7 linked regions of the Homo sapiens genome follow. The protein of the gene in region 2 purifies or fractionates together with the protein of the main gene of each other region. This does not show direct contact. Each region holds a gene or a part of one and is shown on either strand. Other genes may lie near its edges. The genes, in order: YBX3, NEIL1, KRR1, CHD1L, GZF1, DDX55 and TRUB2.

Region 1 (4,091 bases), on a different chromosome or scaffold from region 2:
TATAGCTCAGCCGTATACTTTATCATGTAAACCTCTTGGTTTTCTTGTTATAAATCTCATCCACAGAATTACCATTCAAATTAAATATTTAATTTTAAAACCGACTAGCACAGGCTCTGGCACATAATAATGTTTCTTCTCATGTTTAATTCCCTTAGTCTCTGCTAAATTCTGTTCATGGAAGGCAGATACCAGACTACTCTTCTTTTCTTTTTTAATTTTCCTATTCTTAGTGCTTATCAAAGGGCCTGATAGGAACAGAGTATGTGTTCAGTATATGTATGTTCCTTACAAATATGTATTCAAATGAAAGGGGAAAATGATGGAAAATTAAGATTTTTTTTTCGTGAAACCTCTATTCCATTTGTTGCATTGACCTGCGAATAATTCTAGCAATAAGTACTCATCACTTGACTTTTTTTTTTTTTTAATTTTGAGATGGAGTCTCCCTCTGTCACCCAGGCTGGAGTGTGCCAATCTCGGGTTGCTGCAACCTCTGCCTCATGGATTCAAGCAATTCTTATGCCTCAGCCTCCCAGGTAGCTGGGATTACAGGCATGTGCCACCACGCCCGGCTAATTTTTGTATTTTTAGTAGAGATGGAGTTTCACCATGTTGGCCAGGCTGGTCTCAAACTCCTGACCTCAAGTGATCCGCCTGCCTCAGCCTCCTGAAGTGCTGGGATTACAGGGGTGAGCCATCATGCCTGGCCCTGATCACTTGACTTTTTAATTTTTAAAAATAAATAAAACCTTATTTTCTGGAGAAGCCCTGTCCTGTTGGCACCTGTTCTATTTTCTTCTGTGTTCCCTACAGCAGGGGACCTCCTCGCCCACGACCTGCCCCAGCAGTTGGAGAGGCTGAAGATAAAGAAAATCAGCAAGCCACCAGTGGTCCAAACCAGCCGTCTGTTCGCCGTGGATACCGGCGTCCCTACAATTACCGGCGTCGCCCGCGTCCTCCTAACGCTCCTTCACAAGATGGCAAAGAGGTAAATCCAACCAGTCAGGGCGGATGTTGCCAGATAGTCTTTAATCATGTCAGACTTTAGCATTCTAAAAGTGGTTTTATCACATGAAACCTGACACTTAACAAATATAAAAACATTTTGCTCAAGATCCATATATATAGGGTATGCCTTGTACATAACACAGACCACATATTTGAATCCAGTTAACATTCTCTGAAAGAATGACCCATATTAATGGGGATTCAGAGCTAAAACATTTGGGGTTCTTCAAAGAAGAGAGGCATTTATCAAGAGGAAGCTGCCTCTAAGCATGAGTTGAAAGCAGTTGTATATCAGACTTTATGGAGAGTAGTGGTATTTAGTTGCCGTTTTGTAAGCTGTTCTTATATGGTACTAATTTTGTTTTGTTTTGTTTTTTGTTTTTGTGAGGTTTTGGTTTCGTTTTGTTTTGGTAGAGATGCCAGGGACTGAATATGGTACTAATTTGTGACTCATACTTAAGAGTAGTTAAATTTTTGCATGCTAATTTTCCTTCACAGGAAAATTCAAACTTTTAAGAACTTTCAGTCTTGAACTTTCCACTGTCATCTGACTTTATCTGATTTATGGCTTTGTTTTGCATTTTAGGCCAAGGCAGGTGAAGCACCAACTGAGAACCCTGCTCCACCCACCCAGCAGAGCAGTGCTGAGTAACACCAGGCTCCTCAGGCACCTTCACCATCGGCAGGTAAGAGCTGGGGCAGCCCAGTCTTGAGTTGGTATTTTCTTTTTAGTATCACTGGTTTCTCAACAAGAGTACAAATTAGTCTAAACTAGTTCTGCAGTTCATCTGTGCCAACCCCTTGTCTCTATTGGGACTCTGTGGAAAAAGTGATTTGGTGGTTAAATATTTCTGGGATTGACCTCATTTTGATAAGCTTTGGTGAGGGTATAAGCATTCAGACAGAGTTGATGATACTCAACTTCTTTTTTCTAGACAGGCAGTTTTTTAACTACTAGTACCACTTAGGAAAACTGATGCTAAAAGTCCCTAACAAAGGCCTGGTTTTAGTAATCAGAAACAGTTTCAGAACCTGTTTAGTAATCAGAAACAGTAGAATAAACTAAAGGATTTTTTTTCCTTCCCTTTTTCTTTGATAATCAACTTTATTTATTTTGAGGCGGTGCAGCATAGTGTATAAGAGCCAAGGTTTATCTACCCATTGCAGGCTCTACTGTACCTCTCATTTGCTGGGTGATCTTGAGCAGTTTATCCTCTGTCTCAGTACTATCTGCTACTGGTAAAAATTAGGATACTAATTATATTTACTAGGGTCGTTGCAAGGATTATTAAGTGAAATAACAGGGAGTGTTTACAATAGGGTATGGTAAAGAATAACCTCTCGTAAAAGGATAGCTTGTTATTTTCTTGTCATTTTCTACTTTTTTCTGTCTTTTAAAGGTCTTGGACATTTTATTTACATAGAATTATAGCCAGAAAGATCAACTCAATTATAAATTCTGGGTTTGTTTTTTTTTAACCTATAACCCTTTTAACTGAGACTTTAGTTCTTATACTTCTTGGTTATCACCCTTTCCATTAGCTTTTAGTTAAGAGAGAGGTTGTAAACTCAGTGTCAATGCTATTTTTCAAAAATTGTTAAAATTTCATCAATGAAGTTTTGGGATTATTATAAGTTCTTGTGTCTTAAGGCCATCTGCTTTTATATCCAGTGATGTGGGATTTTAATCAGCCATTAATTAGGTAAGCATTCACTTTGAGGACAATATTCTGTTTTATCTTGGGTAGCATGGACAGTTTGTCACAGAAATAAGTTCCCTATTCAAACTTGGAATTAGCTGATTCAGAGTAACATATTAATAATATAAAAATGGCCATACCCTTTTATGGCGTAACATTATTTCTAGGTATTGTTTCTAAGGAAATAATTTTAAATATTGGGAAAAAATATTTTTACAATTTACAGTCTGTCTGACATTTGGTAAATAGCTAATTGTGATATATTCATATTAGGAGATAGGGTGCAGCCACTAAAATGATTTTGAGTATTGTTCATTAGTAATGGTAATTTTCTTTTATACAATTTTATAAAATTTTTGCTCTTATGTACTGACTTTTCTGGTTTATAAAAATACTTTATTAAAAAGTGAGAGTTTCCATTTAATTAACATATAGCTTACAGATCTATACAAGATGTGATTGTATTTAGAGCATTTGAAGTACTCTTTTTCTAATTATATGAAAAGCATATAATTTCTGCCTTTTTATTCTTTAACTCATGGTTACTTTGTCACTCTTTATAAGTTTGATTTTAATTTTTCCCAGGTGACCTAAAGAATTAATGACCATTCAGAAATAAAGCAAAAAGCAGGCCACAACCTTAACCAACACCAAAGAAACATCCAAGCAATAAAGTGGAAGACTAACCAAGATTTGGACATTGGAATGTTTACTGTTATTCTTTAAGAAACAACTACAAAAAGAAAATGTCAACAAATTTTTCCAGCAAGCTGAGAACCTGGGAATTCCTGCACGGAAGACAAGAGAGTAGCCTCTCCAGTTTCAGCAACCGCTAGGTTTCTATTTTTTTTCCTGGTTTTTACTGTTTTGGTAATATATATATTGAAACAAGAAATATTAATACCACATGGGGAGAACCCCAACCAAAGAAATCTGAAATATATAGTAAATGCTTTTTTTTCCGTTTTTGTTCATTTTGGATGCTGGTGCTAAACCTCCAAGTGTCATGATTTAAAAAAAAAAAAAATTTATGTCCTTCTTATTTATTTCTAGGATGAGGGGAGGATAACATTTTTGCTTTCTTATGTGACTCTCTTTGAAAATGTGCAGTAAGAAATTCCTCAAAAATAAAATTTTTACCCTTCAGAGGACAGAATGTTTAATGGGAGTGTATTTTTGCCGACCTTAGCGTGTGTTTGTCTTCTCCACCACTTGATTTACTTGACTTGATTAATAGTAAATTCAAAGCCAAATGTAAAGTTAAGTTAATGCTGTTTCACAAATTTAGGCATATAAGCTTGAGATGATAAAAAATTGGATTCCTGTTGAAATGTACAGCTGGAAATTGACAAGTTCATGTCTGAGTTCAGTAGTAGGCAT
Region 2 (4,091 bases):
GTGTGAACAGTAGGGCCCAACCTGGAACCAGATGGTACGGCCATGCCGGTCCTGCAGGGAGCTCATGCCTGGCATGCCATAGCAGCGCAGCCAGGCTCGAAAGGCAGCAAAGTCCTCCTCCCCGCTCTCTGACCCGTAGCCTTTGCCCCCTGTGGGACAGAGGAACAGGCAGAGATCAGAGGGCAGGCTCAGGTTGGGAGGAGTGGGGAGCCTGGTTAGACCTGGCCCAGACCTCAGCTACACAAGCTGATGGACTGAGTCAGGGGCCACACTCTCCCTCCTCTGGTGATGTGACCTCAGCTGGTTTCTTCCCACTCGGCCATGGGTTTCCCATCCTGGAGTGGGATTAAGAATCCTTGTCCTGGCCCTGTGCAGTGGCCACACCTGTAATCCCGACACTTTGGGAAGCTTAGATGGGAGAATCCCTAGGGGCCAGGAGTTCAATACCAGCCTGGGCAACATAGGGAGACCCTGTCTCTACAAAAAAAATTTTTAACAATTAGCCCGGTGTGGTGGTGTGAGCCTGTAGTCCTAGCTACTTAGAGGCAGATGTGGGAGGATCACTTGAGCCCAGTTTGAGGCTAGTCCAGGCAACATGGCAAGATCCTATCTCTACCAAAAATATATATAAACGTGCGTGTGTGTGTGTGTGTGTGTGTGTGTATAAATATATAAAAGAATCCTTGTCCTGCCTGTCTCATGGGCAGCTTGGAGGAAACACTGTTTTTTTGTTTTTTTTTTTTTTGAGATGGAGTTTTGCTCTTGTTGCCCAGGCTGGAGTGCAATGGCACGATCTCAGCTCAACTGCAACCTCCACCTCCTGGGTTTAAGCGATTTTCCTGCCTCATCCTCCCGAGTAGCTGAGATTACAGGTGCCCACCACCACACCTGGCTAATTTTTTGCATTTTTAGTAGAGATGGGGTTTCACCATGTTGGCCAGGATGGTCTCGAACTCCTGACCTCAGGTGAGCCACCCCACTCGGCCTCCCGAAGTGCTGGGATTACAGGCATGAGCCACTGCGCCCAGCCTGGAAACACTATTGACAAGTGAGGAGGCCTAGTCCATTGAGTATCAGCTAGGGCTACAAACTTCCAAATCGGTGAATCAGGTCCAGAGAGGGACAAGTGCCCCAGGGTTACACAATCATTTGCTGAAGCAGAGGTTGCTGCCATCTTTGGCCTCACCCAACTGGACCACTTCCTTGGGCACTGAGTGACATAGCTCCAGCAGGTCTGGATTCTGCAGCTTGGTCCTTATCTTCTGGCTCAGGGTCAGCTCCGGGCTCTGAGGAAGGGGCAGGGGCAGGACCTGTCTGTCAGCAGGGCCATGTAAAGGCAGCTGACCTTCTCTCTGAGCTTGGTCAGACTTTGGGCAGTTCATCCCCTCCCCACCCCTGTTGTTGAGCTAAGCTGGGGACACCTGACCCCACCCATCTCCTTGCCGGCCCATGTGGACACCAGTGTGCCAGCACGTGTGCTCCATCCCTCTCTGGGCTTACCGGCCTGTGCTGCTGCAGGGCCTCCAGGACCGAGCGGGCCTTCTCAAAGGGGGGGATCTTCAGCCTGTAGTGGGGGCAAGGCAAGCCATGCTAGGCAGTGGGGAATGTGGGCACACCTGGCCCACCGCAGTCCCCATGCCCATGCCTGCTTGCTGACCGGTACAGGATCTCTGCCCGCAGATAGTTGCCAATGCCATTGAAGAACCTCTGGTCCAGGAGGGCCTCGCAGATGGGCCGGTCAAAGGCCTTATCCGCTAGGTTTCGTAGCACATTCTCCCTGGAGGAACACGGTCTGGGTGCGTAAGACCCATCCCCACCCTCCATGGGATGGGGAGAGGGGCTCAGAGAACCTGTTTCTGGGTGCAAGGGGAAGGAAACTGGGAGTTACAGTTCCTCTTCTCCCTGCCCCCGTTTTCCTATCTGTTAAATGGGAACATCAAGGGATTTAAATTCATTGTGAAAGGACGGCCAGGTGCAGTGGCTCATGCCTGTAATCTCAGCACTTTGGGAGGCCGAGGCGGGCAGATCACTTGAGGTCAGGAGGTCGAGACCAGCCTGGCCAACATGGTGAAACCCTGTCTCTACTAAAAATTCAAAATTAGCCAGGCATGATGGTGGGTGCCTGTAATCCCAGCTACTTGGGAGGCCTGAAGCAGCAGAATCTCTGGAACCTGGGAGGTGGAGGTTGCAGTGAGCTGAGATCGCAGCATTGCACTCCAGCCTGGGCCACAGAGCGAGACTCCATCTCAAAAAATAAAAACAAAATTAAAAATAAATTCATTGTGAAAGGTGAAAAATACTGATCTAAAGTAACTTGAGGCTGGTGTGGTGGCTCACACCTGTAATCCCAGCATTCTGGGAAGCTGAAGCAGGAGGATCACTTCAGCCCAGGAGACCAGCCTGGGCAACAAGGAAGACCCCATCTCTACCAAAAATTTAAGAAGTAGCCAGGGGCTTAGTGATGCACTCCTGTGGTTCCAGTTAATCAGGAGGTTGAGGTGAGAGAATCACCTGAGCCCTGGAGGTTAAGGCTGCAATGAGCTGTGATGGCGCCACTGTACTCTAGCCTAGGCAACAGAGCGAGACCCTGTCTCAAAAAAAAAAAAAAAAAAAGCAACATGAGGTTGTATATGAGGTTGTGTGTTTATCACCTCAGACTCCTCAGGACATGAGAACAGTGTGGCCACAGGACCTCAAGTGTGTTTGCAGTCTGGAGCTCCCTGTATAGCATTTGTGGTGGGTTAGAGACCATATGTGGGTTTGCCATTGGTAGGGTCCATTCTTCTCAAGATCCTGGACATTGTCTGGCTCTGTGCAGGAGATATGTGGAGTACCAGTGAGGGCCCTAGCAGCCCCCACCCCACCTCCAAGGGTCATGGGTCTCCCCTCCTCACCGTGAAGAGGATGTGCATCTTGTTTCTTTGCGGAAAAGGGTCATGGCAAGACTGACTAATGGGTGTGATGAGTGGGTCAGAAGACAGAGTTCTGGGGTGAAGGTACAAGGGTAGCCTGGGAGGTGCCCTGATCCCTGAGGTAAGCCAATTGCCACACGCCCCAGCTGGGGGACTAAGAAAACAGCCCAAATGCTCGTGGTTTGAGAGAAACTTCAGAGCCAGCTGGCAGAGTTAACTTGTGGCGTGACTCCCCAGGAAGGCTGAGGTGGGAGGAATCCAGGACCAAAGACAGATGTTTCCCTGGGGATGTGCTTGGAGTTCACACAGGGGAAGGCCAGGAGTCAACTTTCTTCTAAGGCACCAGAGACATCTCCAACCCATCCCACAGGTATCCAAGTCTCCTAAGGGTCAACGGACGCACAGCATCCCCCAGAAAGGGAGAACTTGCCAACCCTACTCCAGGCCTCTGCATTTGTGACTCTTGCCAGTTCCAATGCCTTCCTCTGGCTGGCTCCTTCTCATCAGTCAGGCCTCAGCTCAAACCTCCCTAGAGTGGCCATTGCTAATGTACCCCCACCCTCGGCCAAGTCATCCTCTACCTCCTTCACCTGTTGGGTTTTCCTAAGGCATGGGTCCATTTCTCATTCCCCTATCCTATGTGAACATCAGTTCTGTGGGAGCAGGGACCACATTCATCTTGTTCACTGCTGTACCCCGAGCCCCTAGAACAAGGCCTGGCATGAAGCAGAGACTCATACACGTTTCCTCTTCAGAGGAAAGGAAGTGGCCAACACTGTGCCATGTGAGGTGACCTGCATCACATCCCAGGTGGGGCTGTTACACCCTACTGCAGGCAGGGAAGTGGCGCAGAGGAGACCACAGGACACAGAATACTGGGCAGGCCGGATGTGGGAGACCACAAAGCCCAAGGCGGAAGCCATGTCATGAGATAGTCCCCTCCCCATCCCCTTGAAACAATTCCGCTCAGCCTCACTTACCATATTAAAGCCCCTCCACCTTCTTAGCCTCCTGGGAGCCCTGAGAGGTGGTGTGGGATTGTGGGTGGGAGCCCCAGCTTCTCTGACACTAACTGGCCACATGTCCTCAGGGCAGTACCTACCCATCCTCCTCTTGGCTCTCCTCTCTCCTCCCCCATCAGTTATTATTATCATTATTTTTTGAGACAGAGTCGTGCTC
Region 3 (4,091 bases), on a different chromosome or scaffold from region 2:
CTGATTTTTGCAGTATTAATCCTCTTCTCCATAGCTCATTAAAATCCTTGTGACTAATTCATTTTTCTTTGCAAATTTCAGGTTAGAAAAGTAGTCCTTGATACTATGAAGAATATTCATCCAATTTATAACATTAAAGTGAGTGGTAATTATATATAACTGTACCAGTGATTATCATACTTCTTTTAGCTACAGAAACCTTTCTTGAAATTAAATGTTTTATGAAATTCTAATGCACAAACAGATAAAGCAGAGCTATTTTGGGTAAATTAGGGGTAGACTTCAGCCTACTTAATTCTACCCCAGTTTTGTAGGTACTTCTTAGAAGCTCTCTGTGGAGCACAGTGTGAAAACTACTGAAGGGGATACTGTAATATGTTATATAGTTGTAATCAATGAAAGTAAGCTTCACAGAATCTGTTGTAGATCATATCAATCCAGTTTTCTTAGATTATGAACCCATGTATTTAAGGATATGATCTTTCGGAAATCTGCCTTTTTCTATTAAAATCTGGAACATCTCATGTTGCGTTAAAACCTTTTTATGAATTTAACACTCAAATTGTAGCTCCTTTGAGAGAGAACTGTTATATCCCTGTGTGCACAAAGTTTGATTATTCTTGGAAATGTAACCATGGTATATAGAACTATTTTATGATGGGTTTGTTGAGCAATCCACTTAAATTTGATGAACTTAAGTTATAAAGTCACTGTTAGATTGGGGGAAAGTGATTTTGAGTTACATTGGGATATTGGGATATTGCAGACAAAAACAAAACTATGTGTCTGATCCCTGGTTTGCATCCTCTGATGTTCCATGGTCTGAAATTTAAATGGAATAGGGAAATGTGAAAATACTGGTTTTCTGTAATCGTGAGAAAGTTTACTTTTGTCTTTTTCTGTGATATTTCAGTTGCTACTGAAAACTTCCTGCTTGCAGGGAACATCAGCTAATTAAGAGCCCTCCCTGCTTTTATAAGTGGCATTTTAAATGTTTTAATGAAATAATGGTTGAAAATTCAGTTTTATTTTTGTCTCATTTTAACAATTCTGCATTTTGTAATTAAATTTCTAATGGTTTTCTAATAATTATACATGTTTGTGATAACCTACCTTTTTGCTTATGTAATTGGTTTAATTTCACCAAAGAAACTAGGAACTGTTTCTTTTATTATTTATAGAAGCAATATTTATAATGTCTGAGTCTGACAAATGTGTGACTTTGGAAAGTAAAAATTTTTACTTTGTTGCATGACTAAAGAGCTTAATGATTAAGAGAGAGTTGGCAAAAGATTCTGAATTACGATCACAAAGTTGGGAGAGATTTTTGCCACAGTTCAAACACAAAAATGTGAATAAACGCAAGGAACCAAAGAAAAAAACTGTTAAGAAAGAATATACGCCATTCCCACCACCACAACCAGAAAGTCAGGTTAGTACTAAATGTAGAACTTCATATGAAGGAGAATCTATTTTAATGTATTTGGTCAGAAACTTTATTGAAAGTATTTCAGGTGGGATATGTGTATATATATATATTGTGTGTGTGTGTGCAGAGCTATAAGAAACTGAGGGTAAATATAAATAGGCATATTTTGAGCTGAGTGCATGGGGGTGTGCAGTGGGGCGTTCACATTGATTATAAACTGCATCCAGGAGGTTTGTGACCCTGTAGCCACTGTAAATGTTCCATGGATAAAAGTTCGTTTAGTCTGCAATACTCTTTTCTCTGATTTGGCAACATTATTGTGACTGTGTGCTCTATGGTTGTTCTTGTTCTGAAATCTTAAATTGTAAATTGTAACACCCACCGTTTTTCTAAGTTATGATTCCTTTTGTCAGGTGTCTTCTGCTTCATTTCCTTTCCCACCATGACCAGTTTCCATTTTGTTCTTGCACATCATTGTTTTGATTCATGCCCCTTTTTACTTCTGTCCCACCTTCTCAGCAAAGCTCTAAAACTTGGATCAGTCTAAAAACTTGACTTCTTCCTTGCAACGTGGCTACCAAATTAAGTTAGAGAAAGTTTTATCTTTGGATTAATTTCATTCAAAATTCATGTTTCCTCTTAATTCTCTCAGTGCCCTCCCATGTTTAGCATATGACATTGCATTTTATTGAAATATTTGAGACCACCAGATAAGAACCCCTTTCTGTTTCCTCTTCTCTCACGTATGGGTTTTCTTCCACCTGCATCAGCCTCTTCTATGTGTTCTTTGAATTCCATCTTCACCTGTCTCCTGGGGGTTCTTGCTTCATTATTCCCTTCCTTGGCTATATCCTAAAGCCTTCCCTTTCTACTTCTGCTCAGCATGTGAACTCATTGCTTTCTACATCTCTTTTTTCCACAACCATGGTTGGAGTCTTTCAGGGAAGATTTGTGATTGACGGGGAAAATGATGATCATAGTGAAAAAACAATGGAAGTTTTGGATCATGGAGGAAATTGATAGTAGTTAGGGGGAAAGTGGAGTGATGCAGTCATTAAACCATGCTTCCATAACACCTGCCTTATTTCTTATGGCCCTTTCTTGTAGTAATTGACTTATCTTTCTTCTGTAGCTGTGTAAGCTTCTTGAAACAGTGATGTCTCGATTGACTTGTTCTTAACACTTAATTCATTATGTGACTGGGCGAGTTATTTATCCCATCCATACTTAAGTTTCCCCATACCTAAAGTGGGAGTAATGGTAATACCTATCTTAAAGAATTGTTAGTGAGGATTAAATGAGTAATTATAAAGAGCTTAGAACAGTGCCTTAGATATAATAATGCTATGTAAGTGGGAGACAGGTCAGTTATACACATTTTACATGTTGGCTGTATATTGAATGAACAAGCTGTTGCTTTTGCTAATTAGTCACCAATTCCTGATAGTTCTGGCTTTTATTCTGCATGCCACTACCTTTATTCCAGGCTCTCATCTATTCTTCATTCCTCTCCATTAAAATTATTCTTTGGTCTTTACAGTCTTCTCAGAAACCTACAGTCATTTCTAAATCTTATCCCTCCTACTTTGTCTGCCATTGAAGCTTCTTCAAATTTTCCCCAAAACTCTCTCTCCAGTTTCTTCTCACACTTTTCTGAATCAGTGACCTTCCATGCCATATCCCTGAACTACTCTGGGTTGTATTCCATGGAGGTGCTTTCCTACCTCCACACTTTTGTGTATGTATTCCCCTCAGCTTAGACTCTGTTTCCTTTATGTCACTACCATTTTTATTAATAAATCAGTTTGACCCCATTGTTTTTACCCTAAGGATATTGTGACTTGCTTAGGACATGACTTCTCCTCTACATTATTTCTGATGTAATTGTAAATACCGTTTTCAACAGATCGATAAAGAATTGGCTAGTGGTGAATACTTTTTGAAGGCAAATCAGAAGAAGCGGCAGAAAATGGAAGCAATAAAGGTACGGCACTTTATGTCTGGCTCACATGAATAGCAAAGTTCATAGATACTTGAATTATTTAACTATAAATACATTTAACTGATATATTTTTTATTTATTAATGTAGGCTAAACAAGCAGAAGCCATCAGTAAGAGACAAGAGGAAAGAAACAAAGCATTTATTCCACCTAAGGAAAAACCAATTGTGAAACCTAAGGAAGGTAATGCTTTCTATGATGTAAAAGTCTTTATTAATTAGGAAAAGTAAACCCATAATAAATTTGTCTGAATCTTTTTAAGAAACAGTTGTATCTTTTCATCAGTTCTCTTAGCATTTCATTAATTACTAATCCTAAGGACAAGGGATGGCTGAGATAATTTATAATTTAGAGGCAGCTAATGCCTATTTCAGTGCAAACTGGATTGACAGTCCTCTCCTGACCTCTGGTCTGTGCTTGGAAAAGACTCTTTGTTGTGAAAGATACAAACCCAGGGCAGCCAGTGCATCTTCTGTAGAAATGCAAGAAGATCCCTGAGCTCTGCTGTCATGCCTCTCAAAGAGGAATTATCAGAAGTTGTACTTTTTCTTCTCTTTATGTGATCTTGGCTTAGAGTTTGGCTTCTATATCGGTAACATGGATTTCTCATCACCTTAGACTAAAGGATGCTGACAGGTCTTATTCAGGAGCTATTAGTGCG
Region 4 (4,091 bases), on a different chromosome or scaffold from region 2:
ATCTCTAGAGAAGTGATGTGACAGACTCAATATGTTACCAAATTAACAATTGCTCAATTAATTCTCCCCTTCATGTATCTTTTAATTTATCTGCTGGCATCCAGAAATGCTTGGATGTGTTGATCCTGTTGGGTGTACATATTTGATACACACAAGTTAGAAAGTGCTTCTTTCTTTGTCTCACTGAAGAGGGGGAAAGTAAAGACTGTGGCAGGAAGAAACTTGGTCTTGGATTAAGAACTGACACCAGAAAATGAACACATTTTCCCTCTTGGGTTGGGAGAACACACAATGAAGATCACAAAAGGATACATGTAAGTTGGGATGCCTCTTGCAGCCAGATGTTTCCGAATAAGTCGCTCAGTACCATACCAGTTAAAACCTTTCGTGGCATGTCCAATACGTGGAAGATGAACACTTGCTATTATGAAGAGAAGAACACATGTCTTCACTCATCAAAAATTGATTGATGGGTATAAAATACACATGGGAGAAAATTATTATTGACTATCTCCCTCAAAGCCCATAATTATAATGTCAAAAATATTCCGGGGGAAGAATTGTAGTAAGAAAAATTAAATTATTCTGTTGAACACAAGGACCTACAAGTTCTGGAAATACATACAATTGGAAATAGATTATGATTGGTGGAGGCAAAATTAAAATAAGCAAAGATTCTCTAACAAGCCAATCAATTCAATAAGCTCTGAGACACACTAGGTTTCGAAACAAAACTAAACTCAATTTTTGTCGAAGAACTGTCTGTTATTGGGAACTGTGACTCTCCAAGAGGAGATTAAATAAACAGCATTTACCAACTACATATGACCAAGTTGCTTCATGTCTAGTCCTCTGCCACCTCATCTGTAAAATCACGATAAAAATACCCGGGGGATGGAGACGGCCTACAGAGATAACCGGTATTAAAAGTGTTTTGGAAAGGACAAGGGGCTATATGACTACAAGACGGTGGGGTGATCACTTCTGTGGTTTGCCTTTACCGTGCATATTAAGTGGGATCTTGACATTTCTTACCTCCCTTCAAAAGTCGTATCACATGCCTAGAAACAAATTCATCTACTCTTGAGCACAGGTGGAAGAGCTTACCTTTCTTCTTTTTTGCTGCTAAAAATATCTTCTTCAGGCCCTCTTCTAGGGCTGCCATCTTAATGCCAGACAGGACATTGGAACGATCACGATGCTGAGCCACAATCAAGGCCAACTGGAAAGAACCACCATTAGATGACCAACCCAACATGAAACAGCCACACTCAACCAAGTGACCGCCCATGGAGGCGGCACAGCCCTTGATGGGTCACTTGGGCTTGGCTCTGTCTCTTTCGGATGCTATGCCTGAACAGCAATGTCCTACTATATGTATGACTTCATATCCCGTCATAATTCTTACTTTGTGGTCACTTTATACAGGGTTTTCTTCTTCTTTTTAAAATACTTTAAAACCAGAGAATGAGTCCAAAACATATACTTTCCAAAAGCTCTCAAGGGTTAAAAAAAAAAAGAGAATTTTTCTGAATTGTAGGCATGGAAAAGATCTTAGAGGCTCCTGTATCCCAGCCCTTTGATGCCTGAGTCAGCTCCACAACCCCCAGGACAAGCAGTCATTCCATCTCTGTTCGAACAATTCCCATGAGGACAAAATGCCAAGTATCTCTCAACCATCCTAACCTAAGTGGGCGAGCTGGAGAGTGTCAAGGGAGCTTCCGGGATGACATCACCACAGTCATATCATAGACATGGTGCTCTACTCCCTGTAAACAGTTTTCCTGAATCACTGGATTCTGAGTTTCTCATGCACAGACACTTTACTTTTCTCCTTTTTTAGCATTTTAGAAATTACTGAAGGAATGACTCAACAGAAACCACTTTGCTGTTAGTCACTGTGTAGTTTGGATGTGTGTCCCCCTCCAAATCTCATGTTAGGATGTAATCCCCAGTGTTGGAGGTGGGGCCTAGTGGGAGGTATTGGATCATGGGGTGGATCCCTCATGGATGGCTTAATGCCATACCCTTGGTGATGAGTTCTTGCTCTGGTAGTTCACATGACATCTAGTTATTTAAAGCAGTGTGGCACCTTCCCCCACTCTCTCTTGTTCCTGCTCTTGCCATGTGTGATACACTAGCTTCCCCTTTGCCTTCCACCATGACTGTGAGCTTCCTGAAGCCCCCAGCAGGAGCAGATGTCAGTATCAGGCTTCCTGTACAGCATGCAGAAGCATGAGCAAATAAATCTCTTTTCTTTGTAAATTACCCAGTCTCAGGGAATTCTTTTATCACAGTGCAAAAACAGCCTAACACAGTCACATAGACAGCAACCTCAAAAGGATGAGCCTCTCTTTTGGCCTGATTTTGAAATTTCTTAATTCTGGCTTAAAATCTGAACATGAACCCAGGCCTTGGAGAAAGCCAGGTAGGTGGGGTAAATCAAACTCACTACAGGCATCCCAAGATGCCTAAGATGCAAAAGGATTCTGATGTGGGCAGAGGACATATGTGTTAGTTCCTCTCTCCTGCTTTATTATGGCTGACTAGAAAACACAATCTTTCATAGAAATTTTCACATAGTAAGAAATGAAACCGTCAGAGTTCTGAGTCATGCCTTCTTACTCATGCAGTAAATGTTTATGGAGCATTTCTTATGAGCTAGTACTATGTAGGGTACTGAGGATAAAAAGACAAATAGAAATCCTCGTACTTAAGATGGGATCTGCTATCTGGACGGTGCTCCGGGGACAGATGGATGGAAGCCTGGGGACAGGGGAAGTACAGTGGAGACTATGGCCCAATCTGCTTGTTATAGGCTGAACTGTGTCCCCCCAAATTCATATATTGAAGCCCCAACCCCCCGTACCTCATGTTTACTGTATTTAGAGACAGAGTCTTTAAAGGGGCAATGAAGTTAAAACAAGGGTTTAGGGTGGGGCCTGATCCATTCTGAGTGCTATCCTTATAAGAAAGGAAATCTGGACACACAGACACCAGGGTTGTGCATGCACAGCAAGATGACCGCCATCTGCAAGCCAAGGAGAGAATCCTCGGGAGAAACCAAACCTGCCGATACCTTGATCTTGGACTTTCGGCCTCCAGAACTATAAGGAAATACATTTCTGTTGTTTAAGCTACCTAGTCTGTGTCTTTTTGTTATGGCAGCCCTAACAAACTAATACACTAGCAGAGAGGCCAATTGGGGCAGGGGACACTTCAAGAGAAGTTGATGTGAGTCCACTTGTAGTTCTGAGAAGAGATGGGTTTTACTTACCAAATCTTGCCCTTTGTTTCTTGATTCTTTATCATCAACAGGAAATAAAAGGACACCTCCCAAACTCAGGTCTGAGGTAAAACAGAAAGGAGCAACATAAAGAACACCAAGTTCACTAATGAATGAATCCTCCTCGTATCTCGCCTTCTTCAAATTCAGTTGGGTTTCAGGACCCACCTTCCTACACAGCCCTTTCTCACTTTCCTGGCCTCAGTCAACCTCTTAGCTGGGTACTCACCTGCTTCACTCCTGAATTTTTATGATCTCCTAATTTAATGCTCCTCAAACATTAACAACAAAGTACCCCTGTAGACATCAGAAAGTGAATACAAAACCCAGAGGTAGCTGGGGGGCTTTGGGGAGGGAGCACTATGAGCTTGAAATTCCTTTGGTAGTTTTGTGCTTGTCCTAAATCATTCAAATTATTACATTCTACTTTATCTCTACCTGTTTGTATAATATATTTTCCTACCCCATCCAAATCAAGTAAAACTGATAGTGAAGAAAAATGTGCTAATTTAATTCTATGGCTTTACATAAGCTGATGTGAAAGCGGTTAGAATCAAAATAGAGATGCTTGTGTTAAAAACTGACATATATGGCCGAGCACAGTGACTCATGACTATAATCCCAGTGCTTTGGGAGGCTGAGGTGGGAGGATTGCTGGAAGCCAGAGTTCCAGACTAACCTGGGCAACAAGGCGCAAGACCCAGTCTCTACAAAAAATAAGAAAAAGTTAGGTTTGGTGTTGTGAACCTGTAGTCTTAGCTACTTGGGAGGCTGAGGTGGGAGGATCTCTTGAGCAAAGGAGTTC
Region 5 (4,091 bases), on a different chromosome or scaffold from region 2:
TCTTTAAAAAATTGCAAAACTGCTTTTACAAAGCAGACATTTATTAACAACATTTTTTTGTAGAATTTCTAAGGAAACAAATTCAAGACAAAAATCCCTCCAGTAGGTAACAAAATGATCTATTGTTTCAATTCCTTCTGATCAAGTGACTTTATTCCATAAAACAGTACATCAGCTGGGCAGGTTCGGTCTCCTCTGGATGTATGACAGTCATTATTTATTTGTGCTGTAAACATAACTAGGATACAGTGACACTGTCATAACTAAATTTGAAGTAAATTAGTACTGTGACCTCCAAGGGCAGGTGTGAAGCATGTTATCAGCGCCTGAAACACCTTGTAGTGGTTTCACTAACATAAGTTAAAACATAAGCACTTAGGAAGAAAGTCTTCCCTCATTAATTTCTGGCATAGTGCAGCTACATGTTCATTCTGGAACTTAAAGTACCTTCCTCTTAGAAAATCAAAGTGTTTTCACAGCAAGTTTAATAAATTAAAAATGTAGAGAAAAAAGGAACTAGTGAACAAAAGAATTCTCCAAGGTTCCCTTTTTAAATTAATGTTTAAATGTTACATGTGAATCATAGCATTTCACAAGCACGTGGCACATACTCAAGGCCCTAGAACCAAATGTCAACGTTTAACAAATACAGCAGAATCGTCTTTTCATTGTGAATTTTTAAAAGCAATAATTAAGTCCTGCATGAAACAGCCAAAGAAGCATTTGGGACAAAGTTACTGGTTCTTCACAATCAACTCTTTAAGGCATAATCGGAGGTAAGTGTGCTGAGACTTTTGGTCCCTACTGCTATGTTCTCACATGCTCCCAAGGAAATAGACATGTCAGTTACTTGCCTGTTTCCATCTCTAGGTGTGGAAATGAGAAGTCTGGGTTTCTGGAAATTACAGAAATCAAGTCAGAAAAACCTGGCAAAAGTAATAATACTCTGTGTTCTATAATTTGCCACAGTCACCTCATTTTGCAAATAAAATGACTACACAACTTTCAAGTACTCTAAAGCGTCTTAATTTTTCATGCCTCTGCAAAAAAATACTATATTGTTTTGCTAGACTCTTTGGTAGGACAGCTTTTACCTAATCTGATTTTTTTAAGACAAACTGAACAGCCTCATCTCATTTCTAAGTTGATTTTATGACAAACTTCCTAGCTGCGTATGTGCTGAGATTACGCTAGCAGTTTTGCAGGTGTTCAATCTGTCAGTCATACTTTGTTTACTGCCTACAAATGGGGGGTGGGGAGGAATGAATGCAACAATCTATTTCTTCAGTTGCATTTGAGGGTCCCCACAGAAAATCTGATTTGCTTCAATTCAACAGGGAAGAAATGACTGAAAATATGTGGCCCCAGTTTTATTTCAGCTTGGAAGAAAAATACCTTGAAAGTAGTTATGAGAGAAGTAAACCCACATGGAAATATAAGGCAGAGTGAGAAGCCAGGAAGACTGCTAACTACAATATCAGGAGCTGGTTCAGTTCTCTGTACTCTGCAATTAAGACCAGCAGTTATCTATAAACTAGGTAATCAAGAATTAGAACGATTAGCACATACACCCTACACCAGAATTAAGTGAGGTTATGTTCACTGCCTTTTTGTCAATAAAGTAGCTGAGATCATGCAGATCAGGATTTTTGAGGGAAAGCTTTAAAAATGCTGTGATAAAGCCGTGCAAGTTAGCAGAAGTTCAGGAAAATCTGCAGAGGCCATTCTTGCCCACATCTTTGCACATGGACAATTATTTTTCTTAGCCCCACATCATCTTGAGTTCAGCTACCACACACGCAGACTAACAGGATGGGAACTGCTTGAAGCTCTTATTCCATGTTGCTCAAAGAGTGAAGCTGTGTGGGCATCGAGTCTGTCTGTGGGGTCAGCTCGCTAAGCTCACTGATGGTGGTGGCCAGGAGGGTGTCCTGGGACACCACGGAGTCATCTGCCTTGCAGGCTGTGTCAGCAGAACTGTTCTCCTGCATGGTAGGTACAGTGTCTTGGACTGCAGCCAGGTTGTGGAAATGGCCATTTTCTGCAAAAGACAGCAATTTATCCGAAAGCTTGGATGACACATACTCTTCGTCAGGCTGTTCAGTCTTGTGTCCGTCATCGTTCTTGGGCGAGCCATCTACAATGACAAGGAAAGACTTCCATGGAGTATTCTTATCGTGTATCTATAAGTTAAACACAAAACAAAGGTCACTGAATGTGTCTCTGGACAAGTGCATCTTTTAAAACAATAGTCCCTCTACAACTTCAATTTTCAACTTTCACTAATAAGTACCCGCCTGCCACCACCCTCACTGTTACAGAGTAGTCATCGTGGATGGTGCTTTCCCTGGGCCTTGGGGCTTGGTGTTCCACTTCATTCATTCCGTGAGCGTTCCACTGCAGAGACAACCCAAGGAGAAAGTACCTGTTGTCTCGACCTCTAACCACCTTGGAGAATGGTGGTAGGTATTTCTCTTTCCGTGCATCTAAGGGCAGCAGCTTGTTTCTCAAATAAGCCAACCCACTGCTTACTGAGGTGTGCCGCCGAAGAGTGGACTTGTCGGTGAATGTCCGTCCGCACGCATTGCACATGAATGGCCTCTCCCCTGTGTGGATGCGGCGGTGGCGCTGGAGGGCGTTGAGCTGGGTGAACTGCTTGCCGCACTGGTCACAGCAGTAGGGACGCTCCCCTGAGGCAGGGAGAGAGGAGACTGCTGGTGGGTCCCTTTGGCCTACTGTGCTTAATTCTGAATACACACTTGAGTGAATGATGCTGTTGCAAACCACTGGGAAGCCTCAGCATCCAACATAAGGAAGGTTATGTTGGGAACAACTTAAGGGCTACAAATCCACTATCTCTATAATACCAAGAATTTATGGCCTACACCAAAAAGGGGCCAGGACATGTGCCTGCAGCAGGTATTATAACTATAGGAATGACACCTGTTTTCCATGGTAATGGAGTATAAAATTACAAGACCCCTAACAACTGAATATGCATGTGTGCATGTGCATTTACTAACATGTACAGATCATTATCCCTATGTCCACACATCCACATCCACTTCCTACATTCACACCATGACTAAGCTGTCTGTCCTTTTCAGTAAAAACTCCATGTAGCAAAGGGACTTAGTCTTCTCCCGTTTACACACATAAGTGCTCCCACTTTTCAGTTTCTCAGAGTTAGAAACAATCTCTAAAGAAATGCTATTATGACATACAAAGTTTGGCCAGTTTTCTTCAAAAGCTTAGTTCCAAGTAATTTACTGGTAAATCTACAAGCTTTAGAATTTTTTTTTTGGCCAAACTAAACTCCCTTCCCTGGGACATTCCAACCATACCTGTGTGGACTTTAATATGCTGGTACAGTGAATTCCGCTGGGCAAAAGTCCTGAAACATACTTCACATTTAAAGGGTTTGGATCCAGTATGGATTCTATTGTGGTGTTTTAAGTACTCCTTAGAAGCAAAACTCTTGCCACATGTTTCACACATAAAAGGTCTTTCACCTACATGAGAAAATGAAATAAAGTCATAAACAATACAGGCATTAAAAACACATGGAACAGTAGGTCTCCACTGTTAAAACCCACGTGAACTCAAAAGTGCCTTGGTAGGCAGCATGTTACATTTTCCAGTAAAAACTATCATAAAATATATATTCATGTAAGATGCTTGCTACTTACTGAAAGTTGGTGTAAAATATCCTTGGAAATTGCAAGAAAAATTCCATTTGACTAGAATCAAAGAGGTATTGTTTGTTCAGCTGGCTCACATTTTAGAAATTTACTCATTCCAAACAAGAAAATAATTTCACAACTTCTGTTTGGAGGAACTGCTGGATTATTTTCAAAGGAACACTTCTATGGATCTTTATCAGAATAAAGGGGAAGTTGACAATGGATATATATCACTATTCTAGAGTAGCAACTCCAATCAACTTGATTGAATTGTAGGACAAGAGTTTTAAATATCTCACTTTTTGTAGTTTAATCCCACAAATCAGACTTACCAAATTATTAGCTGTGCCCGATTTCACAGACATCAAAATAAAAATAGTGACTTTAATAAAATCTTACCATGTTAAT
Region 6 (4,596 bases), on a different chromosome or scaffold from region 2:
GCTCCTGAGTAGCTGGGACTACAGGCATGCGCCACCACGCCTGGCTAATTTCTGTATTTTTAGTAGAGACGGGGTTTCACCATATTGGCCAGGCTGGTCTCGAACTCCTGACCTTGAGATCTGCCCGCTTTGGCCTCCCAAAGTGGTGAGATTACAGGCGTGAGCCACCGTGCCAGGCCAATAATTTCTTTATGGCCAGTTTTTTCACAGAAAGGTGGAGAGAGAGTAATATTTTTAGGTTTTATGGCTGACTGTGGAGAAAAGGGATTCCTGTTTCTATGCTCCGTCATGGGCAAGAGGGATTCTTGAGTTTCTATGGCTAGCCTCAGAGAATCAGAGATCAGAGAGGGAGCAGAAGGTCAGAGAGAAACTTGCTTCTGAGGCTGCCTCTGGGGCCTTCATTTTGGGGTTTCGTTTTCAGAGCCTCAACAGGAGCAAGCCATGCACATAGGTGGAGGAGATAGGCCCTCATAGAGGGCACATAATGAGTGGTCAATAAAAGTTTGCTGAGTGAAGGCCGGGCGCGGTGGCTCACGCCTGTAATCCCAGCACTTTGGGAGGCCGAGGCGGGCGGATCACGAGGTCAGGAAATCGAGACCATCCTGGCTAACACGGTGAAACCCCGTCTCTACTAAAAATACAAAAAATTAGCCGGGCGTGGTGGAGGGCGCCTGCAGTCCCAGGTACTCGGGAGGCTGAGGCAGGAGAAGGGCGTGAACCCGGGAGGCGGAGCTTGCAGTGAACCGTTATAGCGCCCAGCCTCCAGCCTGGGCAACAGAGCGAGACTCCGTCTCAAACAACAACAACAACAACAACAACAACAAAAACAGCTTTCTGAGTGAAGTTGTATGTGGACATGAATGGCCCAGGCAAACAGTGAACAGAGGAATGGGACAGTGTTCTTAGTTAGGACTCTGACCCTAACTTCCGGGAAAGTAAACCAACATTCAGGACGTACCGGCCATCGGACCGCAACATTCAGGACGTACCGGCCATCAGCGGGTGCCTGTTTTGCAGGGCTGCTAACCCGGGTCCCCGACACGTTTCTCTGCCCACGGTAGCCAGCCCCGCTGTCCTTCGGCCTGGACGCGGTCCTGTGCTGCCACCTGCCTCCGAGGGGCAGAGAAAGTGGGAGGGCCGGGCCAGAATCCCTCCCGCCAAAACTCCTGCCCGGTGCGGAGAGGCGCCCGGAGCCCAGGGCGCTGTGCGGAGCGGGTGTAACTCCCCAGGCCTGCCCCGCCGCCTGCCTCCACCGTCCCGCGGACGCCTTTCCTCCCTCCCGCGGCGTGGGAGCCTTCGCCGCGCTCCGGAACTCTGCTGCTCCAGCGAAGTTCCCGGCCGGCCGCTGGAGCTGCGGGAAGCGGAAGTGCTCGTTGGGGGTGCACAAGGCGCGTTCGAGCAGCGGCGACCGACGCGGCGAAGGAGCGCGCCATGGAGCATGTGACAGAGGGCTCCTGGGAGTCGCTGCCTGTGCCGCTGCACCCGCAGGTGCTGGGCGCGCTGCGGGAGCTGGGCTTCCCGTACATGACGCCGGTGCAGGTATCGGTTCCCTGGCGTGGGGGAGTGAGGCTGGGAGAGGGGCAGGCACCCGCTGCATCGGACCCACAGGAGGTGATCGGACAGATCTGAGCCCTGGGGCGCTCATCCCTCCAGCTGGGGCTCTTGCCTTGTCTCCAGCTGCCCAGACTGGCGGAATGCGGAGCTGCCCGGCCAGCGAGCCGGCAGAGGGGCCGCGACCCACCCCGCCCTCGGGTGCTGTGGTCTCAAGCCTGGTTCTCATCCTGGCCCTGCTCGCTGTAGCTGTGAGACCTCGGGCAAATGGCTTAACCTCTCCGTGCTTCATTTTCCTTCTCTGTGAAATGACGAAAAAATAACACCCTCCTTATGGGGTTGCTGTGGGGACTAAATAAACCAGTCGGCACACTATGGGAGCTCAGTAAGGGTTACCGTTGTTATGCATCTCTTCAAGAATATTTCTTGAGGACCTGCTATGTGTCAGGAACTCTTCTAGGCTCTGGGGAGTTTGCAGTATTGGCATCTGCTCATAGCCTTACTTTCTAGTGCAAGAGCTAGAGAAAGGATAATTTCAGCTGCTGGTAAGTGTTATGAAAGAACTAAGACGGTTGTGATAGTGTCGCGCGAGGACTGCAGAGGAGGTGAGATAGGGTGTTAAGGAAGGCCTCTCTGAGGAGGTGCATTGAGCTGAGACCTCAGTGATTGAGAAGGAGCTGGCTCTGAGGTGACTAGGGGGAGATTATTCCACTGGAGAGAAATACCAGTGCACATAAATGCCCTGCGGCAGGCTGCAAATAGTTTGAGCAGCAGAAAGGAGGCCTTTGTGGCTGAACATCAAGAGTAGTGTAAGAGATGGATTGTGCAGGGTCTTGTAGGCGCTTGGATTTCATTCTAAATGTAGTGGGAAGCCATCTTATCTGGGAGGATGTTTAGGAAGGGAAGGGCTGTGATTTCTCTGTAGAGAGTGGCCTTTCCAGGCATAAGAGATGAAGCAGGCAGGTCGCTTAGGAGGCCATTGTCAGGTAAGAGATGATGGTGACTTGGAGTAGGGTGGAACCAGTGGATACTGAGAAGTCACATTTGGGATAGCTTTAAGGTTGCTAAGGGACTGGAAGTGGAGGTTAGGAAAGAAAAGACTACAGGACCTGAGGTTTTTATTCTTTTTTTTTTTTTTTTTGAGATGGAGTCTCGCTCTGTTGCCCAGGCTGGAGTGCAGTGGCGCGATCTCGGCTCACTGCAACCTCCGCCTCCTGGGTTCAAGCAATTCTCTGCCTGAACCTCCCAAGTAGCTGAGATCACAGGTGCCTGCCACCATGCCCGGCTAATTTTTTGTATTTTTAGTAGATACGGGGTTTCACCATCTCGGCCAGGTTGGTCTTGAACTCCTGACCTCCTGATCCACCCGCCTTGGCCTCCCAAAGTGCTGGGATTACAGGCTGAGCTACCGCACCCGGCTGATTTTTATTAGTAGCTGAGTGAATGGTGTTACCATTTCCCAAGAATGACTGGCGTGCGTATCAGGTTTCAGAGGGAAAGTCAAGAGTTCTTTTTTTTGTTTTTTGTTTGTTTGTTTGTTTTTAACTTTTTTGAGACGGAATCTTTCTCTGTTGCCCAGGTTGGAGTGCAATGACACGATCTCGGCTCACTGCAACTTCTGCCTCCCGGGTTCAAGCTATTCTCCCATCTCAGCCTTCCAAGTAGCTGGGGTTACAGGCATACACCACCACGCCTGGCTAATTTTTGTGTTTTTAGTAGAGACGGGATTTCGCCATGTTGGCCAGACTGGTCTTGAACTCCTGACCTCAGGTACGCCCGCCTTGGCCTCCCAAAGTGCTGGGATTACAGGAGTGAGCCACTGCGCCTGACCACAAGAGTCCTGTTTTTAAACACTGAGCTGGGTACAGTGGCACCCGCCTGTAGTACCATTTGTTTGGAAGGCTGAGGTGGGAGGATCCCTTGAGCCCAGGAGTTCAAGACCAGCCTGAGCAACATAGTGAGACCCGCATCTTCGAAATTAAAATAAATAATGGCCGGGCACGGTGGCTCACGCCTGTAATCCTAGCACTTTTGGAGACCAAGGTGGGAGGATCACTTGAGATCAGGAGTTCAAGACCAGCCTGGGCAACATAGGGAGGCCCTGTCATCACAAAAATTTTTTTTAAATAAATGAAGTCTTGAGTTTGAGATGCCCATAAGATTCCCGGGAATGTGGAGAATGTATTTCCAGCAGGCAGGGCTGGAGATGAAAACTGGGAGTGCTATGTGCCCTGCCTAGGGAATGTAGTGCGAGCAAGACCCAATCTCTGGCCTCAGAGCTCATTGTCTAGACCTGTCATCCACTACACAGTCATCAGACATGGCTATCAAGTGCTTGAAATACACTTTGTCCAAATCAAAGTGTACTCTGAGTATCAAATAACACACTAGATTTTGAAGACCTAGTATGAAAAAAGAATGGAAAATGCTGATTTTTAAATATTGACTAAATGTGAAGGGACAATATTTTTGATATATTGGGTTAAATAAAATATTAAAATTTATTTCACCCATTTCTTTTTACTTTTCTTACTATGGCTATTAGAAAATTTAAAATTGTTTATGTGGTTCACATTTTATTTCTATTGGACAGCAATGGCCTGAAGCAGGGTCCTCACTGTTGGCACTATTGACATTTTGTGCTGGAAAATTTTTTGTTATGGGGCTGTCCTGGGCATTGTAGGATGTTTAACAACATCACTGGAATCTGTCCATCAGAGGACATCACCTCCCAACCCTGGTTGTATTTTATTTATTTATTTATTTATTGAGGCAGGGTTTTGCTCTGTTACCCGGGCTGGAGTGCAGTGGCACAGTCACAGCTCACAGTAGCCTCGACCTCCCTGGGCCTAGGTGATCCTCTTACCTTAGCCTCCTGAGTAGCTGGGACTGCAGGCATGCACCACCACACCCACATAATTAAAAAAATTTTCTTTGTAGAGACAGAGTCTCCCTGTGTTGCCTGGCTGGTCTGGAATTCCTGGCCTTAAGGGATCTACCCACCTGGGCCTCCCAAAGTGCTGTGATTATAGATGTGAGCCACCA
Region 7 (4,091 bases), on a different chromosome or scaffold from region 2:
GAGTGCAATGGCATGATCTCGGCTCACTGGAACCTCCGCCTCCTGGGTTCAAGCAATTCTCCCTGCCTTAGCCTCCCGAGTAGGTGGGATTACAGGTGCCCGCCACCACGCCTGGCTAATTTTTTTTTTTTTTTTTTGTGAGACGGAGTCTCACTCTTGTTGCCCAAGCTGGAGTGTAGTGTAGCACCACACCTGGTTAATTTTGTATTTTTTGGTAGAGATGGGGTTTCACCATGTTGGCCAAGCTGGTCTCAAACTCCTGACCTCAGGTGATCCACCTGCCTCGGCCTCCCAAAGTTCTGGGATTACAGGCATGAGCCACTGCGCCTGGCCTTCAGACAGTATTTTTACCCCCATTTTACTGATGGGGAACTTGACGCTCAAAGAGGCTAAAGATTATACTCAGAGCTGTCCCTGATTTGAGTGCAGGTTTGTGTGACTAGGCCAGGGATCTCTTCCTCTCAGGTGTCAGAATCCTGTGGAGAGCTTGGCAGGGATCCTAGGCCCCCTCCAACCATGAGTCAGATTCAGTGCATATGGGTAAGGCCCAGCAATCTGCATGTGATATATACCCAGAGGGGTGCACCTGCCCCCTGTAGAAGATCTTTTTGCCTTCTTGTTGCCTTTGGCAGCATCAGAAAAGGGAGTATTCTGATGGTGGGGGTAGGGGTGGGGATACTTAGGGGAATGGGAAGGGGGTCCCAGGTGTGAGATGACGCTGGCTGCTTTTCAGTGCTCGGCGTGGGACATGGATGCAGGCTCCTCACCGATATGTACAATGCTCATCTTACCAAGGTACGAGGGTCTGGGGACAGCCTGCTTCTCCCTTGGTCCTTTCCTGGGGGTCACCAGCAGGATTCTGAAGCTTAGAGGATTCCGTGGGGGAACACCCAAGCCATAAGCAAGCATTTTTTTGATGATCGTGTGCTGTGCAGGGGCTGTAATAATAATAACAATAATAACTACCAGTGTTAGTGTATGCCGACTACTCTGTGCTGAGCACTGTACGTGGATTCCTTTAGGGAAGCCTCACAGCCTCCCTGTAAAGTGGAATCTGTTGTTAGCCACATTTCACAGATGAGAGAACTGAGGCTCAGAGAGGAGATGTTACTTACCTAGGTCATGTAGTTGTTAGGGCTTTAAGAGCTGGGATTTGAACCTAGGTCTCTCCAACACCAGAGCTTGATCATGATGCCATTCCCTATTCTGTCCCAAGACTGAGAGGTAGATGTCAGCATCCTACCCACAGGGAGCTTACCATCCAGAGGTGGGGTCGGGGCTATGGAGTCTGATACCACAAAGTATGTACGCAGGTGCCACGTTATGGGGCCCATGTTTTTAGTGGTTAAGGGCACAAATTCTGGAGCCAAATGGCTTCAGTTTGAACCCCAGCTTCTACCACTCTGACAGCTGTGTGTCCTTGGGTAGATTACCTAATTAATATCTGTGTGCCTCAGTTTCCTCATCTGTAAAATGGGAATGAGGGCCAGGTGTGGTGACTCATACCTGTAATCCCAGTACTTTGGGAGGCTGAGGCAGGAGGATTGCTTGAGCCCAGGAATTTGAGACCAGTCTGGGCAACATAGCAAGACTCCATCTCTATTTACAAAATTTTTTTAAATTATAAAAATTTTAAAAATTGTGGCCGGGCTCAGTGGCTCCTGCCACTTTGGGAGGCTGAGGTGGGTGGGTCACTTGAGGCCAGGAGTTCAAGACCAGCCTGGACAACATGGTGAAAACCTGTCTCTACTAAAAATACAAAAAAATTAGCCAGGCTGGTGGCGCATGCCTGTCCTCCCAGCTACTCGACGATCCACCCGCCTCTGTCTCCCAAAGTGCTGGGATTATACGTGTGAGTCACTGTATCCAGCCAATCATTACTTATCTGTGGCAGATGGGGTTAGCTGCACAGATTCAGAGGAGGGGGAGTTTTTACAAGCAGGGATGAGCAAGGGCCTGATCTGGGCCATGGAATCTCATTCTATTTAGAGGCGTGGAGAGAAGCCTACAGGGCATGCTAGAAGGGGCTCGGGGTGATAAATTGCCGAGTTAGGTTGGAGAGGAGAAACATGGAGGCCTGGGGTGGCCACAGGGTGGCTGTCAGCGGTCAGTACCTTTGGAGGCTGCCAGTGCTGGTTGTCATGGAAACCAGCCAGCAGTCTTGTAGGAAGCCTGCTGACTGGGAGCCAGGTACCATGTCCTGCTGAATCCAGGCAGCAGTACTGTGAGACTGGCCCTGTTACTGTCCCCAGGTGACAGGAGAGCTTGAATACAAAGAGAGCAAGAGCTGCTGAAGGCCACATGACAGAGCTGGTGCCCTTCCTCCTGGGGCTGTGGAGCAGCTGGGCAGGGGCTGGGCACATGAGCTTCCTGAGGGAGACCTGAGGACCCCCCACCCCCAGCTTCTGGGGCAGGGGCTACTAGGGCTTAGAATGGGGTCACTGACGGATCTTTACCTCCCTGTCCTTGAAGGATTACACAGTGCGTGGCCTCCTGGGCAAAGCTACAGATGACTTCCGTGAGGACGGGAGGCTGGTAGAGAAGACAACCTATGGTGAGAACCGGAAGTGGCTGCCGCTGCCTCCCTCCGCATTTGCTTTCCCTGAGTCCTCTCCCCGCCCTAGGCCACGCTGGCCCCTTCTCAGTTCCACTGCACACACTAGGCTTGGGCTGAGGCTTTGGCCACGGGATCTGTGCTCCAGGAGCATCCTCTACTCCCCTGCTTGCCTAGCTCAAATGTAACGTCACTTCCAAAGACTCTAGTTTCTCTCCATCTCGTCAGTCTTTGACCTTTTCCTTTTCTTTTCTTTTTTTTTTTTTTTTTTTGAGACGGAGTCTCGCTCTGTCGCCCAGGCTGGAGTGCAGTGGCACGATCTCAGCTCGCTGCAAGCACCACCTCCCGGGTTCACGCCATTCTCCTGCCTCAGCCTCCCTAGTAGCTGGGACTACAGGCGCCCGCCACCACGCCCGGCTTTTTTTTTTTTGTATTTTTAGTAGAGATGGGAGACGGGGTTTCACCATGTTAGCCAAGATGGTCTGGATCTCCTGACCTCATGATCCGCCCTCCTTGGCCTCCCAAAGTGCTGGGATTACAGGCATGAGCCACCGCGCCCAGCCTTTCCTTTTCTTTTCTTTTTTTTTTTTTGAAACGATGTCTCGCTCTGTCGCCCAGGCTGGAGTGCAGTGGCGCGATCTTGGCTTACTGCAACCTCCACCTCCCAGGTTCAAGCAATTCTCCTGCCTCAGCCTTCGGAGTAGCTGAGATTACAGGTGCACACCACCACACCCAGCTAATGTTTTGTATTTTTAGTAGAAATTGGGTTTCACCCTGTTGGCCAGTCTGGTCTGGAACTCCTGACCTCAGGTATTCTGCCCACCTCGGCCTCCCAAAGTGCTGGGATTACAGGTGTGAGTCACCACGCCTGGCTACTGTTCTAAATTTTAAAAAGAGGCCGGGCGCAGTGGCTCACGCCTGTAATCCCAGCACTTTGGGAGGTCGAGATGGGTGGATCACAAGGTCAGGAGTTTGAGACCAGCCTGGCTGATATGGTAAAACCCGTCTCTAGTAAAAATACAAAAATTAGCCGGGCGTGGTGGCAGGCACCTGTAGTCCCAGCTACTCAGGAGGCTGAGGCAGGAGAATCGCTTGAACCTGGGAGGCGGAGGTTGCAGTGAGCTGAGATTGCACCACTGCACTCCAGCCTGGCAACAAAGCGAGACTCCGTCTCAAAAAAAAAAAAAAAAAATAATAATAATACAAAAAATTAGCCGGGCATGGTAGTGCACGCCTATAATCCCAGGTACTCGGGAGGCTGAGGCAGGAGAATCGTTTGAACCTAGGAGGTGAAGTTTGCAGTTTGCTGAGATCTCACCACTGCACTCCAGCCTGGGCAACAGAGCGAGATTCCATCTCAAAAAAAAAAAGGCCAGGTTCGGTGGCTCACGCCTGTAATCCCAGCACTTTGGGAGGCCAAGGCAGGTGGATTGCCTGATGTCAGGAGTTCGAGACCAGCCTGGCCAACATGGTGAAACCCCGTCTCTACTAAAAATACAAAAACTAGCCGGGTGTCTTGGCGTGTACCTTTAATCCT

The links.
Region 1: the proteins of NEIL1 (region 2) and YBX3 purify together in Homo sapiens (affinity purification with mass spectrometry; one large-scale study listed by BioGRID and IntAct). This does not show direct contact.
Region 3: the proteins of NEIL1 (region 2) and KRR1 purify together in Homo sapiens (affinity purification with mass spectrometry; one large-scale study listed by BioGRID and IntAct). This does not show direct contact.
Region 4: the proteins of NEIL1 (region 2) and CHD1L purify together in Homo sapiens (affinity purification with mass spectrometry; one large-scale study listed by BioGRID and IntAct). This does not show direct contact.
Region 5: the proteins of NEIL1 (region 2) and GZF1 purify together in Homo sapiens (affinity purification with mass spectrometry; one large-scale study listed by BioGRID and IntAct). This does not show direct contact.
Region 6: the proteins of NEIL1 (region 2) and DDX55 purify together in Homo sapiens (affinity purification with mass spectrometry; one large-scale study listed by BioGRID and IntAct). This does not show direct contact.
Region 7: the proteins of NEIL1 (region 2) and TRUB2 purify together in Homo sapiens (affinity purification with mass spectrometry; one large-scale study listed by BioGRID and IntAct). This does not show direct contact.

The regions. Positions count from the first base shown.
Region 1 is NC_000012.12:10,698,860-10,702,950, reverse strand, and holds the end of YBX3 (Y-box-binding protein 3), read left to right. Parts: intron 1-816; coding exon 817-991; intron 992-1,597; coding exon 1,598-1,663; 3' UTR 1,664-1,697; exon of another isoform or gene 1,698-1,699; intron 1,700-3,296; 3' UTR 3,297-3,862; downstream 3,863-4,091. UniProt on the Homo sapiens protein: Binds to the GM-CSF promoter. Seems to act as a repressor. Also binds to full-length mRNA and to short RNA sequences containing the consensus site 5'-UCCAUCA-3'. May have a role in translation repression.
Region 2 is NC_000015.10:75,349,797-75,353,887, reverse strand, and holds part of NEIL1 (endonuclease 8-like 1), read right to left. Parts: intron 2,588-4,091; coding exon of another isoform or gene 2,512-2,587; intron 1,857-2,511; coding exon of another isoform or gene 1,778-1,856; coding exon 1,658-1,777; intron 1,565-1,657; coding exon 1,501-1,564; intron 1,287-1,500; coding exon 1,187-1,286; coding exon of another isoform or gene 1,146-1,186; exon of another isoform or gene 906-1,145; intron 278-905; exon of another isoform or gene 203-277; intron 150-202; coding exon 22-149; intron 1-21. UniProt on the Homo sapiens protein: Involved in base excision repair of DNA damaged by oxidation or by mutagenic agents. Acts as a DNA glycosylase that recognizes and removes damaged bases.
Region 3 is NC_000012.12:75,501,245-75,505,335, reverse strand, and holds part of KRR1 (KRR1 small subunit processome component homolog), read left to right. Parts: intron 1-81; coding exon 82-138; intron 139-1,261; coding exon 1,262-1,432; intron 1,433-1,472; exon of another isoform or gene 1,473-3,335; coding exon 3,336-3,413; exon of another isoform or gene 3,414-3,519; coding exon 3,520-3,613; exon of another isoform or gene 3,614-4,091. UniProt on the Homo sapiens protein: Part of the small subunit (SSU) processome, first precursor of the small eukaryotic ribosomal subunit.
Region 4 is NC_000001.11:147,290,739-147,294,829, reverse strand, and holds part of CHD1L (chromodomain-helicase-DNA-binding protein 1-like), read right to left. Parts: intron 3,349-4,091; coding exon 3,278-3,348; intron 1,223-3,277; coding exon 1,108-1,222; intron 422-1,107; coding exon 313-421; intron 1-312. UniProt on the Homo sapiens protein: ATP-dependent chromatin remodeler that mediates chromatin-remodeling following DNA damage.
Region 5 is NC_000020.11:23,368,183-23,372,273, reverse strand, and holds part of GZF1 (GDNF-inducible zinc finger protein 1), read right to left. Parts: intron 3,513-4,091; coding exon 3,345-3,512; intron 2,691-3,344; coding exon 2,533-2,690; intron 2,184-2,532; coding exon 1,833-2,183; 3' UTR 1-1,832. UniProt on the Homo sapiens protein: Transcriptional repressor that binds the GZF1 responsive element (GRE) (consensus: 5'-TGCGCN[TG][CA]TATA-3'). May be regulating VSX2/HOX10 expression.
Region 6 is NC_000012.12:123,600,718-123,605,313, forward strand, and holds the start of DDX55 (ATP-dependent RNA helicase DDX55), read left to right. Parts: upstream 1-1,381; 5' UTR 1,382-1,431; coding exon 1,432-1,539; intron 1,540-3,130; exon of another isoform or gene 3,131-4,596. UniProt on the Homo sapiens protein: Probable ATP-binding RNA helicase. Has ATPase activity and is involved in the maturation of precursor large subunit rRNAs.
Region 7 is NC_000009.12:128,312,271-128,316,361, reverse strand, and holds part of TRUB2 (pseudouridylate synthase TRUB2, mitochondrial), read left to right. Parts: exon of another isoform or gene 1-536; coding exon of another isoform or gene 537-540; exon of another isoform or gene 541-733; coding exon 734-795; exon of another isoform or gene 796-938; intron 939-2,114; exon of another isoform or gene 2,115-2,264; intron 2,265-2,456; exon of another isoform or gene 2,457-2,472; coding exon 2,473-2,554; exon of another isoform or gene 2,555-2,811; intron 2,812-4,091. UniProt on the Homo sapiens protein: Minor enzyme contributing to the isomerization of uridine to pseudouridine (pseudouridylation) of specific mitochondrial mRNAs (mt-mRNAs) such as COXI and COXIII mt-mRNAs.